Regions from separate parts of the Homo sapiens genome. Here region 2 is linked to region 1. Evidence: fine-mapped expression QTL. A gene starts in region 1. The other region holds a variant in brackets. All regions are shown on one strand. Distances are between the middles of the regions.

Region 1 (5,367 bases):
GCCTCCCCGGCCCCTCGCAAGGTCCTCCCGAGCCCCAGAGACCCCCGAGGCGGCGTCTACAGGCCCGGGCCGGGACTGACACCGCAGCCCCCTCCCTGGTCGCGCCTCCCACCCCCGTCCACACCTGTGCCGGGAGGCGGTGCGGCCGCCGAGCTGAGCTGAGCCGAGCCGACCTGGTCGGGCACCCAGGCCCCTGAGCCCACCGCCCAGGCCGGCCTCTGCTGGGTGCAAAGGCAACGTGGAACTAAGGCGGGGCTGCAGAAAAACCACCGTCCTCCCCAGGGTGCCACCTCCCTAGTCCGCCAGCCTGGTTAGGGGCAGAACCTAACGCTCTCAGTGCTTATTTGCATGAAAATGGCTACGGGGATTATAACAATCGCCGCCCAGGGCACTCTGCCCCCCAGGGACAGCCCAGGCCCTCCAGGGGAGCCGTATTCCCCTCCAAACCGCCCCCTGGGAGCCTCCAGGAGGGACTAAAGGTCGCTGCCTGCCACCTGCTCCAGCCTGGCCAGTAGCTGCCCAGGGTATAACCAGAGCTCTTAGGGGACAATGGGCACTCCCAGGCCACAGGCAGATGCTGGCCACATCCCAGCTGGGCAGAAGACACGCCCATCGGGCTCACCTAGGCCTGGCAGGGGGAACAAGCCAGGTGAGGCTTCCCCCCAGGCGACAGCCCCTCTATCTAACGGCTAACAGCTCCCATGCCTGCGGGTCCCAGGTCCTTTCAGGCCTGTGACTGCCTCCTCAAGGACCTCCTTCGCCCCCTCCGGGTCTCAGCCTGAATCCTCCTGCCCCCTCCCAGGGCCAAGCCTCCCCCACTTTTCAAACCCAGCAAGGCTGCAGCAGGCAGCCCTACTCACCTGGCCCCGCATCCGGGTCCGGCACCTCCAGTCTCAGGGTCCCCCTCCAGCCAGGGCCTCCCTTCTCGCAGGGCCCTCCCGCTTTGGGGCGCAGCCCCAACCCCAATAACCCCTGGGCTCCCTTCCGGGACAGACCCACTCCCGCCAAGGCGTTTGTTTGTGCTGTGTGCCAGCTCTGCGCCAGGACGCACTCCACCGCCACCCCCACCCCATACGGGCCACTGCCGCTCCCCTCAGGCTGGCCAGGGAAGGGAGCTGCAAGCGCTTATTAATCGCCAACGGTGTACTCAGCTCTGAGGCTGGCAGGAAGACTGAGTATGGAAAGGGGGAGCCCCAAACCCCGCTCAGCATCCCCTGCTGCCCACAGTACTCCCCACCCCCAGCCATCACCATTGGCACCCTGAGCTCCGTGGTCCTGGTGCCCACTGAGGGTTCTGCGGTCGTTGCGCCAGCTTCATTTTCTGTGGCCCTTCATTCAACCAGCGGCCGAAGCCCCCTTCAGAGCCCCAGGGTGACCCTGGGGGGCCCAGGCTGGCTGGGGGCTCGGGGGCAGAAGGCGGATCCCCCCACGCTCCCTCTCCACCCGGCAGCGGGGAGGGGGCCTTTTAGAAATGTCTAGGGTGTCTCGTGACAACCCCCCCCCGCCAAAAAATCATTACTTTCAAAGGCTCCCAGGCTCCTGGGCAGGGGTCTTTGTCCCCTTCCTCCAGGACAGCGAGGCCTCCCCCGCCCTCCCCCTGCAGCGCGAGTCTGACCCCCTTGCTCCCGCCCAACACCTGCCGAAGGTGCAATTACCCGTGCGTTCTTCCTGCCCCGGACTCGCCGCGTCCCCGCCGCACGCGCGGAGGTGTTCCCACAGCGGTCGGCGGGGTGCGGCCCCTCAACAGCCCGCACAGGGGTCGTCGGGGCGGCTTTCCACGGAAGCGGGAGGGCTGGGGGTCGTGGGGGGTCGGCGGCGTCCTGGGGAGCCCGCCCCCGGAGTTCGCGGATGTGTGACCCGAGGCAGCCGGCTCGCCTCTGAGGGTCCCAGGTCCGCCCGAGTGCAGGGGGATCCGGCTCCGTCCTGCGGGGGTCGCGGCGGGGCGAGCACAGCCGCTGCAGGTAAAACGCCGCGCCTGGGTCTGGGGAGGGCTCCCCGGCGGCGGCCCAGCGCCAACAAAGGCCAGGAGAAGGGGGGAGCGGCGCCGGCGCCTGTCCGGGTCGGGGGGAGGACTTCGCGCCCGGAGCCGCTCAGCTGGACCGTCCGGGGTCTGTGCGACGCGGCCGGGGGCCCGGGTGACGGGGGGCCTGGGTGACGCGGGGCCCGGGGCCGGGAGGGCTTCCTGGAGGCGGGGTCCCGGACGCCGCGTGGTCCCTTTAAGAGCCGGTCCCGGGGTGAGGGCGGAAGGCGGCGGCGGCGCGACCCACCCGCACCCTGCACCCCGCCCCCCCCCCGCGGCAGCCGCCTCAGCTTCACCCCGAGCCCGGGCTCCGCTGACGTCACCTGCCCCCGAGCCGCGCGCGCTGATTGGCTGCAGGTGACGTCAGGGGCTTTTTTCGCTCGGCATGACCTCATCCCCGCCGGCGGCCCCGCCCTCCGCCCCGGGCCTGTCACTCGCGGCCGAGCGCGGCGGCCGAGCCGGCTCCCCCCACGACGCCCCGCCGGACGCCGGACGCCCGAGCCCGAGCCCGAGCCCGAGCCCGAGCCGCGCCGGAACCTCCCGGCCGCGCCCGCCGAGCCGCGGGGCTGGGATGCGCGCCGCGAGCGCGCGTGCCCGCCCGCAGTGCGCGCGCCCCGGCCCGAGCGAGCGCTCCCCGCGGCGTTGGCGGCGGCGACGGCGGCGACGGCGACGCGGCCCGCGCGCTCCCCCGGCCCCTGCCCCGGCTGCGCGGGCCCCCGCCGGGCCCATGGACGGCGCGGCCGAGCGGGCGCCCTGAGCGCGGCGCGGGTCCCCGGAGCGCCCCCGAGGCGAGCGCGAGCGAGGTGAGCGGAGGCGCCGGCGGGGCGGGGGCGGGCGCCGGGGATGGGGTTCACCGGCCCGGGCCGGGGGGCGGAGGGCGCCGCGTCGGGGGCGCTGGGGCAGCGGCACCCGGTGGGCGCCCGGGAGGAGGAGGCGGCCCCGGAATGAGCGGCCACGGCCGTCCAGGACGCCAGGGACAGGGAGGCCCCTTCCCCGCCCCCCGCAACGCCCGGCGGACCCGGGCCCAGCCCACGCCCGCCCGCCGCGTTGCCGCCCTTCTCCCCGCAGCTCCTTCTTTGGGTGTGGAATGGGGGGGGGACAAAAATCCAGGACCCACCAGGGCCGCCTGAGATCCAGCGCGGATCTGCGCGAGCCCCCGACGTCCCGAACGTCACCCCCGCGGGGGCCAGAACCGGAGCAGGCGGACCCTGGCCCGGAGTCGGTCCGGGAGGTGTGGAGCCTCGGCCGTGGGAGGGACGCGACGGCCTCTGGCCTGGGACACCCGGGAAGGGGCCTTCCCCTGTCGGGGGGGAGGGCTGCAGATCCATCCCCCCAGTGTCCAGGCCGCACTGCCTCCCCATCCCGGGGTGCCCAGCCGGCCCCTGAGGGATAAAGCCCCCGCGCCCTTCCGCCTGCTGCAGAGGCAGCCGCGGCGCTGGGGGAGGGGCTGGCACAGCCAGGCTGCTGCAGCCACCTCGCTAGGCCCAGCTGCCCAGCCTGGGATGCGGAGCAGACCAGGTGGGGATACCTAATAGTCTGGCCTGGAGGGGAGGGGGCAACAATAGGCCCAGCCCCAACAGGGTCACCCCTTCTGGGAGAATCTGCCTCCGTCTCCCTGCTGCGGGGTGTACCGGCCTCTGCTGAGGGGAATAGGGGCTCTGGTGCTGCAGTGATGGGGGGCGGGGACACTGTGGGATGGAGGAGGGGGTGGCAGGATGTAGCGTGGCTCCGCAGTGCTCTTGCTGTGCAGCTTGGGGTGGGGGTGGGGTGCTGCAGGCCAGGGAAGCTCCTTTTGTGCCCCAGCGGGGGGTCTGAGGGGAGATCCAAACCCCGGCACTCTCCCTTGCCTCCCTTCTGGCACAGCCCACCCAGAGACACTGTTGCACCTAGGGCGGTCCAGGGGTGAATGTAGCACCCCAGGCCCCAGCCCTCCACCAGGAGGACAGTCCCATGCATTCACTGCTAATAAGCACTGGATGCGGATGGCAGATCATGTGACCCCAGCTGGAAGTTCATCCTGAAGTCTCGCTGAAATACCTCCTGCTGCAGCCAGCCGGGGGCTGCACGAGTGTGGCTGGGCAGGTTCTATTCCCCTGGTATCCTCTGTCCTCGGGGAGGCTTCTGGGAATAAAGTCCCATTAACAGAGGTGCAGAAAGACGCTTAGAGTCAGTCTCTGCTCCAGGACCCTTCTCTTCTCAGGCTGGGGCTGAAGTCAGGGCCTAGAGGCTGCCACTGGACAGGTGCCTCGAAGGGGCATCAGCTAGGGCCTGGGGAGACCTAGGTGTCACTTCTTGCAGAAGGCAGGGAAAGGGGCAGACCCACAGTGAGAGAGAGGTGGTTGGACTCTGGCCATGAGAACTGCACCCGCTGAGGCCCCCTCTGCCGGAGTTGCTCAGGGCAGTGAACCTTGGAAGCGCCACACTGGTCCTGATGTTTAGCATGTGGCACAGTGACCAGGAGGAGGGACACAGGTCTGGTGGGAAGGGAGGGAACCTGGATATGTCCGGCTCTGAGACTCGACTGTCACGGCCCCTTGTGCCAAGTCCTCCCATCCCCTGCCCTGCCCGGACCCCGTTCCTGGGATCGGAGGGAGCCCCCCGCCCCACCCCACTTTCTCCCAGGTCCACAGCTTCCCCAGGCCAGCGGAGCAGAGTGTAGGCCAGCTTGGGTCCTACAGCACTAGCCAAGGGAGCTGAGGGGAGGCAGGGATGAGGGCATCTGGGGGAGCCCAGTGAGGGAAGATGAGCTGACCTGTGTGAGTGCAGGGTCCCTGCCTCCCAGAGTTGCCACCCACCAGTCTCTCCTCAGCCTCCTTAGTGTGACGATTTCTGCCTCCAGAAGCATCCCTGGGTAACAGTGAGCCGGACAGCTCCAAGAGCCTGCCTAGGTGTGAGGGGGAGACACAGTCCCATCCCCCCATGCTTGACAGTCCTGGCAGCTGTCTCTGAAGGTAGTGAGTCCCCATTTCTAGGTGCTGAGCAGAAGGTAACATGGTAAGGATGCTGTCAGTTGAGAGCTGGGGGTGGCCTGGGACTCCCTGGTCCCGTCTGTGCTCAGGGACAGGAATGTGCTGCACAGAGACGCTGGGTGTGGGAGCTCGTGTTTGTAAGGAGTCTGAAGCTGACCCCTCGGGTACTGGAGTCCTGGGGTTCTCAGGGGATCCTGCATACAGAGGGCAAGGACGTGCGTGTACTCTAGTGTATGTCCAGCCCACGCGTGTGCACATATTCACGCGTGGGTACTTGCACACAGGGCAGGTGGATTGTGGGTAAGGAGCACCAGCCCTGTGTGTGGAGTGGGTGTGCAAAGAGGTGTGTTCTGGCACGCACAGAGGGCAGTGTGCACG
Region 2 (5,367 bases), 33 kb before region 1:
AGGGCTTCAAGATCCCACATCCCTGGGCCCCTCCTGTGAGCCTGCTGGAAACACGCTGACACTGGAATCCTCCGACCTGCTGCCGCCTCTCCCCGGTCCCCGCAACCTCCTGGCTCCTCCCCGCTTCGTCTTCATCCTGCCTGAGCTGCCACCGCTCCGATTGCTTTTGGAGTTGACCTAGAGGACTCGGAATTATTGGAGACCCCAGGATCCTCTCCTGAGGAGGAGGGGCGCCCAGTCTCCTCTTCTACCTCCGACCTGGCCCTGTTTCTTTCCCCAGGGCTTCGCCTTGTAAGTGCCTAGGCTAGATCTTCTAAATAAATACGATCTGCACCTCCCACGAGTTTGCATTGTGATTCTTTTGTTTCAACTTCTGTGTGATTAGAGAAATGTACACTTTCCACAGAGTTGCACTCCCAGGCATTTGGGAACCCCCCGTACCCTGCTGTGTGAGTTTGCTAGGGCTGCTCCACAAACCGTGTGGCTTAAGCAACAGGAGTGGATTGTCTCACAGTCTGGAGTCCGGAATCCGCCATCGAGGTGCCTCAGGGCCGGGTCCTCCTGAGGCCTCCCTCCGTGGCTTACTGATGCCGCCATCCCTATATCCTCACGTACTCATCCCTCTGTGTGTGTCTGCGTCCTCATCTCTTTGCATAAGGACACAGATTAGACTAGGGCCCACCCTACTCCATTAGGTCCATGTTTGAACTAATCACCCCTGTAAAGACCTATCTTCAAATAAGGTGCCATTCTGAGATACTGCGTTGAGGACTCCAACATATGAACCAGGGGGCACAACTCAGCCGTGGCATCCACTTGGCTTGGGGCGTCTCCGTCTTTCCCATCTTCCAGGATACAGAATTGGGAGGCCCCTTGGGCTTCTCTCCCCCACAAGTCGCCAAATCCCTCAGCATCTCCTGGAAGGCTTCCTACAGACATCTATTTCCTGCCTCCTTGTGACACCTCCCTACACAGACTTCTGATTCAGGTGCCCACCTGTCCCTTCCCTGCTGCCTCTGTCAGCTGGGGCTGCCAGAACAAAACCCACAGAGTAAGCCTGGAAGACGGAACAACAGACACCATTTCTCCCAGTTCCGGAGGCTGGAGGGCCTAGACCAAAGTCCAGCATGTTCGACTCATGGGGAGGGAAGGCAGGAGCTGGCGGAGGAGGAGGTGGGCTGCAAGGCTGGAGCCCCCAGACCCAGGCGTCTGTAACAGCAGAGCGCTGGAGGCTGCTCGGGAAGCCACCGTCTCACAGGATGGTAGGCAGTGAGTGCCTGGCGGAACTGCGACAAGAAAGTGAAAACTCAACAACACGGAAGTTTCAGAAATTGCTTCTGAGTTTCTGTTTCGGTAGTAAGGTTGACTAGACACTATTCACAACCCTGAAACTTCTAAAAGGACATGGTGAAACCCCGTCTCCACTAAAAATACAAAAATTAGCCAGGCATGGTGGTGGGCGCCTGTATCCCAGCTACTTGGGAGGCTGACGAAAGAGAATTGCTTGAACCCAGGAGGCGGAGGTTGCAGCGAGCCTAGATCGCACCACTGCATTCCAGCCTGGGCGACAGAGCTAGACTCTTTCTCTAAATAAATAAATAAATAAATACATAAGTAAGTAAATAAATAAAGCTTTAAAGTGCTATGTTTAAAGCATATATATTTTTTTTAAGTCACTGAGCTGTTGAAAAACTAAATAATCCTCAGAGCCAACAAGCAAGAGAGAGCTGGACCCACAGAGGAAGGTGAAAGTCAAAAACGGCCTCCACCCCATGGCTGGACCAGAAAGAGGCCCTGTCTGTTTTCTTCCACCTGTGTTATTGGAAAAAAATATTTGACAAGGAAACATACACCAAACCCAGCTCTTTTGTTTAAAAGCCAATTGCAAAAACACAGAACGAGTGACCTGGTTTAATGGTGGCTAAGAACGATAGAAAAAGGGCCTGGTCTATCTGAGTTAAATTTGAGCTCAGGATGAGGCTAGGGTGTGGTGTTGCTGCCGAAATCCACTCTGTGGTCTGAGGGTGGATTCGTAGCCACACGGTGTCCAACTCAGGGGTGAATGAGCCCCTCCCCATCAGCCCATGCTAGTTCCTTTAATGGACTTTTTTTTCAGAGCAGTTTTAGGTTCACAGCAAAATTGAGAGGAGTGGGCCACAACATCCCCCGTGCTCTACAATGAGAGCACTTCCTCAGAGCCCAAGACAGTAGGCCACTCTCTGGGGGTCCCCAGGGGCTCAGGGTGTGGCTGGCCTGTCCCCAGCTCAGGAGAGACCAGGAGTTGTCTAACAGTTCCTTCATTGGAAGTCTCTGTGGATGCCTCCCACGGACCTGAATGTTGAGGGCCCATGATTTCTACAGTACATTGAGGAGCCGGGATGCAGGGCCCCTATTTCCTCTATGTGTGCCCTGGACACCCCAGGCACAGGGGACAGGCCTGGCCCTGCAACCCCACCAGGGTCCTGACACCAGGCTTGGCCTGGCCTTGTGATGAGCAAGAGAAGAGGCAGGTCCAGAGACACCTCCTGCACGGGATCGCCTGCTTCCGACCCCCATGACAGGCAGTGGCCAGCATGGTGTGGAAGGGGCCAGGATGGCACACGGCAGGCTGCCCTGTAGCCCCAGATGGCTCCTGGCCTCAGGAAATTAATATCCACTGGAAAACTCATCACTTGGAGGCTGCCAGAGGGAAGGGTGAGTGTCACGTTCCTGCAGCCATGGCCAGCCAGCAGCATGCCCTGTGGCCTCTGGCCCAACCTGTGGGACAGGGACCCCAGACAGGGCACAAGTCCCAGTCCCAGAGGGTCCTGGCCTGATGCTAACCCAAGCCCTGTCAAGGGAAGGGCATCAGGGGCGCCATGGGCACCCAGCAGCAGCCAGGAGGATCACACAGGGGACTGAGCCTTCTGTGGCAGTGGCCGGACCCAGAACTTAGCCAAAAGCAGGGCAAGCCTCCTGGATCAGAGCGGGTGCTGCTGCCTGTGCATGCCCAGCAAGGCTGAGCCAGTGATGCTACCAGGGTCCATGAGGCAAGGGTGGGGCAGGAGCAGGCTGACCAGCCGCCAACCTCGTCCACTCCAGGAGGCAGGGATGGCCAAGCTCCCACGCCCTCGTGGCCGCCACCTGACCACCGATGGGGCAGAGGCCTGAGGCCAAGCAGTCAGTGCTGGGGCCCTGCTTCCAAGGTCTACAAACTGCTCCAGTCCGGAGGGCCAAAGATAATTGGGCACGTGAGGGCCCAGGAGGTCAGTTCCCTACGTCTGCCATCCTTGGCAGGTGCATTTC[A/G]TGGTCAGAAAAAGTCAAGAAAGGTGACACCTCTCAGGTGTTATTATGAAGGACTCTCCCAAGACACATCTTTTTTTACATTTATTTTTATTGTACATATTCATGGTGGACAACATGGTGCTGTGGTAAACATGTACACTACTGAAATGATGGCTGCAATTAATATCTCCAACACCTTCCATGGTTCCTTTTTGTATGTGTGTGTATAAGTGTGTGTGCATGGGTGTGTTTGGATAAGTGTGTGTATGAGTGTGTATGCATGTGTATGAGTGTGTGTGTTTGTATGATTATGTGTGTATGAGTGTGTGTAAGGTGTGTTTTTAATTGTGTGTGAGACTGTGTGTATGTATGTATGTGTATGAGGGTGAGTGTGTGTGTGTATGTGTGTGTATGAGGGTAAGTATGTGTGTACGATGTTAGTGTGTGTGTATGTGTGTGTGGTAGGAGCACCTGGAGTCTTCTCTCAGCACACCTGCCACACACAACACCTGACTGTCACCTGTAGTCCTTGCACTGTGCACTGGACTGCTCGGCTCCCTCTCCTACACAACCGCAAGCCCTTGACCTCCTCCTCCCCCTTTCCTTCTTCCTCCAGACCCTGGTAACTACTGTTCTATTCTATGTTTCTATGTATTTGACTTTTTCAAAATGTGGAATATATGCATACATCTATACGTGTATATATGGAATATTCTTCAGCTTTCAAAAGAAGGAGATCTGGTTACTTACAACAACATGTACAAATCTGGAGGACATTACACAGGGTGAAAAGAGGCAGACACAGAAAGACAGACATCACACGCTCTCCCTCACACATGGAGTCTACAGGAGTGAAACTCACAGAAGCACAGAGTGCAAGCATGGGAACCAGAGGCAGGGAAAGGGGAAATGAGGAGGTGCTGGCCCAGGGGTCCAAAGCTTCAGTTCTTCAAGATAAATAAGGCTTGGAGACCCAATGCATAGCAAAGTGACCACAGGTAACAACACGGTGTTTATTATGTACTTAAAACGTACTGAGAGGGTAGATCCTACATGTTCTCACCACCAAGAAAAGAGAGAGAGAGAGAGAGAGCTATGTGAAGTGGCAGATGTCTTAATTATCTTGACTGTGGTGATTATTTCACAATGTAGACATATATGAGATCATCGAATTGTATGTCTTAAATATACACAATTAAAAAACAATAAAAGCCACCCCCAGTGCCAGGCCCCACAGGCACCCCCACCCAACCCTCCTACTTGCACATACAATGTATAAAAAATAGATGCGCATACACAATTGGGTATTGCTACCAATTCGGATTTTATTATCCACATTTCTTTGCAACTTAATTCTTTTCACTAGAACTTGTATCATGGTTGCCTCTCCTAGGAAGTAGATCTGGGTATAAGTCTATGTTTCTTTACGCGCATGCGTATTCATATATGTGGAGTTTTTCCACAAGTAGGATCACACATACTGGACTCACTTTTCACTGTCATTTGCTTTTTGTTGATTCCTACACACCTTCCCCACTCCACCCAGCCACTGTCCTACGTACCCCAGGCACACACTCAACATATGTGTAAAAGATATTTTTATTGCTTGCTACTAAAATAGGATCCTACAGGGCTCATTTCTCTGCATCTACATTTCACACTAGCCAGAGCCTTGAGGAAATTTCTCCAAGTCCACTGGTACAGGTGTAATCTTATTTTTTAGTGGGTATGACTTTTAGTATTAATTTTCAATTTGCTAGGATTCTTTTTCTGACACTGTAAATAATAGATCATACACATATATGTATACACGAATATGTTTACGTTTAATCTTTTTTCAGTAATTTCAAGACTAATTGTATTGATATGACCTAATTTTATTAGATATTGTTTTCAAAAAAACTGTAATAAATTGTATCCCCAGAACAATGTATGAGTACCTTTTCCCCCAATTTCACTAGCAATAGGTGTTATTATTCTTGTTAATTTTGGTCAGTCTAGTAGATATAAAATGTTGCAGGTAGCCACTAACTGAGTCCACTAGCGTGGGCAGAAAAGGAATTTACCAAGACAGTTGTAGGTAAGGAAAGGCAGATTTATTAG

Alleles and levels. Positions count from the first base shown, and alleles are read on the strand shown. Sizes are in standard deviations (SD) of each study's normalised expression.
In carriers of allele G in region 2, the expression in anterior cingulate cortex of the gene that starts at base 2,453 in region 1 tends to be lower than with A alone (small effect, 0.22 SD a copy in GTEx).

Evidence for each region. PIP is the estimated chance that this variant, and not a neighbour inherited with it, causes the effect.
Region 2: its variant is the best candidate, but not a certain one, in a credible set for the expression of DUSP8 in anterior cingulate cortex (GTEx, PIP 0.83).

Annotation. Positions count from the first base shown.
Region 1 is chr11:1,569,357-1,574,723 of GRCh38, reverse strand. DUSP8 (dual specificity phosphatase 8) reads left to right here and starts at 2,453. Exons shown (of 7, transcript NM_004420.3): 1 at 2,453-2,823. It overlaps KRTAP5-AS1 (KRTAP5-1/KRTAP5-2 antisense RNA 1), which reads right to left and starts at 1,983. Exons shown (of 2, transcript NR_021489.2): 1 at 1,656-1,983. RefSeq lists enhancers at 1,758-2,303, 2,852-3,399, 4,915-5,367.
Region 2 is chr11:1,602,052-1,607,418 of GRCh38, reverse strand. No RefSeq gene overlaps it. Among named protein-coding and RNA genes, the nearest start is that of KRTAP5-3, 3.7 kb to the left of the region's middle. The variant A/G (reference allele first, on the strand shown) is at 3,286.